Linked DNA regions of Homo sapiens. The protein of the gene in region 1 purifies or fractionates together with the protein of each later gene. This does not show direct contact. Each region holds a gene or a part of one and is shown on either strand. Other genes may lie near its edges. The genes, in order: ZSWIM6 and NAT10.

What was found.
Region 2: the proteins of ZSWIM6 (region 1) and NAT10 purify together in Homo sapiens (affinity purification with western blotting; one study listed by BioGRID). This does not show direct contact.

Annotation. Positions count from the first base shown.
Region 1 is NC_000005.10:61,534,495-61,538,314, forward strand, and holds part of ZSWIM6 (zinc finger SWIM domain-containing protein 6), read left to right. Parts: intron 1-989; coding exon 990-1,125; intron 1,126-3,820. UniProt on the Homo sapiens protein: involved in nervous system development, important for striatal morphology and motor regulation.
Region 2 is NC_000011.10:34,108,534-34,112,353, reverse strand, and holds part of NAT10 (RNA cytidine acetyltransferase), read right to left. Parts: intron 3,613-3,820; coding exon 3,521-3,612; intron 303-3,520; coding exon 131-302; intron 1-130. UniProt on the Homo sapiens protein: RNA cytidine acetyltransferase that catalyzes the formation of N(4)-acetylcytidine (ac4C) modification on mRNAs, 18S rRNA and tRNAs.

The DNA.
Region 1 (3,820 bases):
AAAACAAATATAGCATGTCCTCTGAGCAGTGGTGTCATGGTTCATAATTCTAGAAATCATGAAACAGATGTTACCCGAAGGTAACATGGAAACTAATTTATTAAAAACTTTACAGTAACTAAACCTCAGAGTACCTTAGTGCAAAGTGGTTGAACTAACCACTGTGGTTTCCTTTCAGAATTTATTTTAAAAGTCTATGTTGCCGTTCTCAAAGCAGCATTCAGGGAGCACACAGGGGAAGTCAGCTCTGCCACCACGCCTGTCAGAATTTACTAAGAAATGAATTTTGACAGCTTAAGTGTAATTTTGCTTTTAAAATTGGCTTTCAGGAGCCCAAAGAATAGTAAACTTCCAGTTACTTTAATTTTTTTCTTTTGCCTATGATGCGTATGAAATGGGTAACTATTCTTTTTATTAATAATCACTTTCTAGGAATTAATATCTGTTGCCACTCATTAGAGGCAACAATGTGTATAGTTAGAGAGCTGTGGTTCAGAATCCTCCCACACCTCTCACCCCTGATACAGAGCACCATTTTCTGGAAACCTGGCATATTTGTGTCCCTAACCCTTCTTAGGTCCAGGGGTAGTTTCCATAGTTAAGCTGTGGTGTCATCTGTGCATTTACAAATCAAGATGCTCTGATGCCACACATTGAGAGAGGATGTTGCTCAAATGCAGCAAGGTTTTACGCTATAGAGGGTTCCTTTCTCTGAGGCACTTGTATTGTGAATGCTGTCTGCCCCTGAGTTCTGGGTTTTTCATCTAGCTGTGGGACAGTTAGGGGTTTGTTTATGAGGTGAAATCTGTAACGGATGCTATACCCTGAAGAATCTTTTTTGATTAAGGATTATATTCCTTTCTATATCATTTACTTGAAATTCTTATTTGTATATGTTATAACTTTATGTGACATTTTAACAATATGCTTTACAAGAAGTGTTAGTTCATTTTTTAGGAACGTAAAATGTGTATGCTCTCTTCCCACAGCCGGACCATATAGTGGTTTAGGTGAAATAATCCATCGGGAGAGCGTTCCAATGCACACATTTGCCAAGTATCTCTTCACCTCTCTCCTACCTCACGATGCTGAATTGGCATACAAAATTGCACTGAGAGCAATGCGGTATGTATTCACAGCCCAGCTGGGCAGAGGCAGGCCACATTCCCACTGGGAAGCATGGCTGTTAACTGACTTACTCCTTCATGTTTCTTATAGGCAGCAGAAAAGCTAAAGAAACTATGTATTTATGCTTCCTGTATTGTTGTGGAGGTGATTTGCTTGTTGGCTTGTTTTGCTTCTGTTTAAAGTAAGGGAAGGGTTATCCTTGCTGCTATCAGACTCAAGCACACCGTGGCTTTTTCCTACTTTTTCGTGAAGCACAATTCAAGCCAAGTTTAATCATAAAACAGCAACAGTTGAAACCTTCATAAATGATTAATTGTTTTGAAAAAATTGATTTTTGAAGCAGTAGTAAATAGTAAATATACTGGCTTGAATATAATTGAGGGAGACCTTCACACCTGCTGTAATTCCGCATTCCATCAGTAGTGCAGGAAAGCAACTCCCTGTATTGCCAAGGCACATCTGTATTCACTGGAGGCTGAGAGAAGGTGGGACGTGCATTTAGCAGTGAAGGAGTCGCTATTCGGGGTCCTTCAGGCTCTGCCTGCCTCTCTTCTGACTGCTTCCATCTCCTCATCGGTCTCTCCTTTTCAGCAATAACAGTTAGAATATGTTGTTCTCTACCACCCACCTTTTTATTTCTACCTTCTTTTAAAAGTTATTTCACATAATAATTATTTTTATCACAGATTTGTTCAAGGTGAATATTTTAATGAGTTCAAGATTATATTTTAATCTTACAAATAACCTTTAAATTTTAAGGACCTAAAAGGTACATCCATCTTTCTTAAAACATCAGCATTTTCTTTTTCCTTTAAAAAAATTAATAAAACACTCCTGTGCTTCTAATGGAAAGTACAGATCACCTAAGGACAAGCCATGTTGTAGACCTAAAAGCTTGTGTGTGCTGATTAACAGTTTGATCTCAAGAAGCTTTTCATCAAAGATTCTATGTCTGTAATCAGAGAAGTAGATTCTAAAACAAATCCTTGCCTATAAATTACCAGTGTCCCCAAAGTTACCCTGTTCTGAAAGTATTGAGTGTAGCTTATGTGTATAAGGACACCTCTTTTTTATGCAGTGATAAGGATGTGTGTATGTGTCTGTGTGTATACCTATGTGTCAGTGTGTTTTAAGGCTGACATCCTGTAATTTGACATGCTTTCCTTGGCAATATGGAATCTTACTAACCTGCTGGAGAATCTTCTTAAGTATTCTTTTTTCTATTTTTAAAATACCAGAAAATAAGTCAATAACAAACATCAGCAAAAGTCCCCCACCAAATTACATTATACCACTTGGTTTATGTTTTAGAGCACGATTTTAAAATAAGTGGGTTCCTATTTTTATTTTTGGAAGCTGAAATGGAAGCTGTCTTATGAAGACATATGCTCAACTCTATACTTACTCAAATCTTAGGAATTCTAATCTTGTTTTAAAGGGAAGATGTTAATGTTATGGTGCCACCAGATGCTGTTGCTACTACCACTGGCAAAGTTTAAGGGTAAAATAGCATAAAGTTTCTGTGTGGTTCTGGCTTATGTAATGGTATGTGCCAGGCAGAAAGGCTTGCTTTTCTAACACTCACAAACTCATTTATATTTGTCCTTGGTTGCTGCCAAGGCAGTTTCTTAATGGGGAATACTAGCAGGGTACAGGGGAATTTTTTTTCCACTTTCTCTCTTCTATCTGCCACTACTATCCTGCCAAAGGTCTGCCATGGAAGGCAGGTATGTGCCCCACCAGGTATTGCAAGGCAGCCCAGGGAACAGGAAGGAAAAGAGAGATGTAGCTCGCATGCTTCTTAGTCCTTCTGGAAGAGGAAGGCTAAGGAAGGTCATCTTCAGCACTCATTTTCTCATCTTCCCAGGGATGTTGATTAGTTTCTTCTACAGTAAGTCTGGCAAGACCTGCCTGTGAATACGAGGATATTCTGAGTTAAAAAAAAAAAAGCTAAATAGCAACCCTGCCATTATTCTTACTACTTAACTGCCTACCTTGCCACCTTCTCTACTGCTGACATCTTTTTGTTCCTAAATAAAAGGAGAAGAGAATGAGCCATTTGGCTTACCAGGCAATAATTGCTCTTGGGTGGGGCCTTGAGGCCAGCATCACTCCCAGACCCAGCTGACTCTTCTTGGTCTCCAGCTCTTATCTTATTTCATAGTTCTTAACACTGGTGTACTTGACTGAAGGCCGGCATTTTGATGGTTGTAAATAAATTATTTCAGCTTTAGGTACTCTACTAAGCTTTTTGGTACTTTTAGAAGAGATTACTAAATATTTGCTTTGCTTTTAGAAATTTTTTCATCAGCATATTCTTTTTTTATTTGTTTTGAGACAGGGTTTTGCTCTGTTGCCCTGGCTGGAGTGCGGTGTGGTGTAATCATGGCTCCCAGGCTCAGCTGATCCTCCCATCTCAGCCTTCCAAGTAGCTGGGATTACAGGCACATGCCACCACACCCAACTGATTTATATTTTGTAGAAACAGGGTTTCGCCATGACAGTATATTCTTAATAAAAAATCAGAAATCACTCTGAATTTATGCAAAACTGTCAAGGGACAGACACTTAGGTCACATTTATCTTCTGTAATATGGTTGGTAGAACATAGTCTAATGTCAAATTCCTGGAGTCATAAGAAACTAATTGTTCAGAAAGTATGAATGGATGGAAAAGAGGTAATTTTTGTCTT
Region 2 (3,820 bases), on another chromosome or scaffold:
ATAATGCTTGGGCATAGGGAACATGGGACTCTCCTCTCCTTACTGTACATCTGTTCCCAGTGGAAAGCCAGGCAGCCCAAGCAACCCTCAAGACTCTGACTTCAATCACAGGTTAGAGGAAGCCACCCACCTGCAGCACACACATGCCGAAGGTATTGCCCAGGATCTTGTGGGTCTCGTTGTAGTAGCAGTAGCGAATGTTTGTGGCTGCTATGAAGAGTTCAAAGGGGTCGTCCTGCTTTATGTTCAGTGTTCCATTCTTTATTTTCTTCTGCAGCTGTCGCATTCTTTTCTTCCGGTGACTGCAATCACACACCCCCAATCCCATGAGAGCCAGTTAACCAGAGCAGCTAAAGAGCTGGAACCAGGGGAAAGGCTCAGTGATCACCCACTTAGACTTTCAGAGCTAGTAGGGAACTTGAAAGTGTGAGGCCCACTTCAGGTGGAGGGCAGTGGAGAGGCATGAGAGGCATTAGAGTGCTTAAGGGCTTGGAGTAAGTGATAAGTCTATGTGTGAACTCTGCTATTTTGCCCTGTGACCTTGAGCAAATACTTTGCTTTAAAAGATGGGTAATAGGGTAGCTAACCCTCACATTTGGCCAAAGCCAGAGCTTGAAACCAAACCTGAGTGGCCTCATTATCTCAGTCATAAGCCAATGCTTCAACTACACTGTGCTGTTCCCCAGAGATCCTAGGAAAGACAAGGTGATGGCACGTTACTTTATTCATCCTTCCTAGAGGACTTCCTCCCCGAGAATGTGGGATTATGTCTTCAAGGGCAGGTCTTACATAAGACAATAATGATACAGGACACAGGGATCAGAATGGAATCTGGACATCTCTAAGGAATTCCTGAATTTTTTTGGTCTTAAAAACCCTGCATATCCAGTTGCTACTTACCTTTCCTTTACCAAAAGAGAGAATTAGAATGTTCTAGAATGGAGGATTACAGCTGATCAAAATTTTACCATAGTTCTCTAACTTAATAGCTAGAACAAAGGCCTTTCCTCCTGTGGGCCTCCACTTCCTCATCTATGAACCAAGGCAGTGGGTGAGTTTGTCTCCACTGTCCCTTCTGGCTCAGGCCTTAAGCCCGTGACTTACAAACAGGCATTAGCTTGAACACAATGCTCTGCCAGACTAAGACAGGGGTGGGGCAGAAGAGCTATAAGAGGTACAAAAGTAGATTTTTAGAAGTGAAGCCAGGTGGTTTAAATTCAAAAGGCAAATCTGCCCAGAAGACTTTGAACTGCCTAATTCCACACCCATCTCATATTTGCCAAATGAAAAATAGTGAAAACCAGAAGCCCTAAAAACTTAAAATTCTGGGATAGACAACAGGCCTTATTCTCAATCTGTATTAAAAATGCCTACCTCTCTAAATATGAGAGTATATACAACAGAATACCAATTATGGTTCAAAACTACATCCCTGTAAGATACACCTAGATGCTGACAATGCCTAGACAGTGAGATGTTTTTTATTTTCATCTTTGGGTTTTCTGCACTTTTCACATTTCATCAGTAAGGCTCTTATGATTGTCTGGTTTCCTTTAGGCAGAATCCCTTCACTTTAAGACCACAGGACAGGGGCAAGTTTAGCCTCTGGTACTAATTTAAATTAAAATAATTTTAGAGCCTGTTAACAACACATCCAACTCAATGTATACTGAGTACCTATGATAAACATGCTAAATCAGTTAAAAGTATGAAAATACAAAGATAAATAGAAGAGGGCTCCTAACTAAATAAGCTTATCACCTGAAAGTAAAAAAAAAAAAAAAAAAAAAAAAAGGGAAAGAAAAAAAAATGAACGTAAGTCACAGTATGTAAGTGACTTTACCCTAAAGCAAAAGCATCCATTGGCAAACATTATAGGAGAAGGACAAGTGCAGAGGAAGGTAGAGGAACCACCAGGTATGACTGGGGGGCTCAGGAAAAGTTTCACGGAGGAGGCAGGCCCTGAGAAACAGGATTTCAATAGGTGATACCGGGGAGGTGGAAGTGGCATTCCAAGCAGAGGAGACAGCATGAGCAAAGAAAAGGAGGGAGGTTAGTCACAGCATAAAGCAACCAGAGCTGGAGACAGGCTTTCAGAGTCAGATCGGAGATGAGCACATTTGGAAATTAGAAGAGGCTCAAGGACAGAATCGCACAAGCCAGCTAGGTTTAGAGTAAGGAGACGAGATCCAGAGAAAGAGAAGAGCTCCGGAAGGTGGTCTGAGTAAAGACACTGAAGCCAAAAAAGGAGACTATTTCTTAGGTGATGCCATGGTGGTTATCTGCCAAGGAACAGCACTACCCACCCCATCCAAACTTCTCCAAACACAAAGTTGTAGGTAGAACTTCCAACTTTGTATTATGCTATGACCAACCCCACCCTCCTCTGGCCAGGTGTGGGCATTTTTCCACCAGAATTTTGGGAAAAAGTCTGATTTCCACATGGCTGGGCCTGAAACAAGGAAAACGCAAGTGTTGTTTCTGCTAGGGGGACAACAGAAAACAGAAAGCTGGTCTGCAGTGAGAAAGTTGGTCTGCATAGAGCAGATACACTGAGATGACAAACTGAGCTGGGAGCATTAGTACTGTGACTCTAGATCACCCGTGAGCAGAGCTGAAATCTTATCCCCTTGGATTCCAGGAAATATCCCATATACCTCAATGAAATCCCTTTGTGCCAAATTGTATTTGTGTTGAAAGTATGTTATCTATGACTAAAAGTCTTGACTACCACAGCTTCAAATAGCCAACTGTCAAATACAGCAGTGAACTGGTAGAAGAAGAGGCAGAGCTCTGAAAAGGAGGAGAAAGAGAGAGAAAAGTTGACGCATTAGGCATCAAGCTGCTGGGGATGTCTAACTGCACAATTTGATCACAATTATAGAAGCAGAAACCAGACTGCAAAAGTGGCTACTAAGTGCAAAAGATTTCTGTTTTAAGGTATATGGCAATAAAAATCGGGGGAAATGCTAACCTGAGAGAGAAATCTGGGTATGTAAGTAATCAGCTTTTGATAATAGAAAAATCTGAGCATGTTTACAGGAAGGAGAAAGTTTCCAAAGGGTATTGGGTGGCCAGCAGAGGAAAGACAATACAGGTCCTGAAAGAGGTGAGGGAGGAGACACAGGGTACATAAAGGGGTTTTCCTTGGACATGGGATGAGGCATATACCCCCTCCATGAAAGAAGGGGAGAAAAAGAGAGAGAGTGAAAAGTGGAATAAATTTGAGGTAGGAAAGACAGTTTGAAGGAACTTGCAATGAGATGGGCTTAATCAGCCTAGAAAAGCAGGAAGGAAAACCATATGCAGAAGGCAAGGCATTGGATTGGTGACTTAAAAAGCATGAAAATGATTTGAAACTTATTTTCAGGAATGAAGAAAGGATATCAGCTCCATTTGTCCTCAGAGATAGCACCTCCACTAAAGACCCTTAAAAAATATGTGAAGGAATCATTTCCTGGCATTTAACTAATGAGCAGGAATTGTAAGTTGGATAAAACACATGAAGAGCCCAGCTTACCTGCTAAACCCCAGCTCTTTCTTATAACACCACAGCACTGAAGGCCGAGCCTTCACAGTTGCTTTGGATAACATGTGATGAAGTATTACCACCTGCCAAACAAAAAAGTCACAGAATTTCAGGCACAAAAGAGACTTTAGAGACCGCCAGGCTTAAGACCTCATTTGACGGATGTGGAAACTAAACTGAGGGCCAGGGAAGGGAAGTGCCCAAGGTTCTAAGGCGAGCAATGACCAGGTTTGGACTAGAAGCCAGGTCACATACAGTTCACTTTGTGGTCAACCCACCACCCCAGGCTTC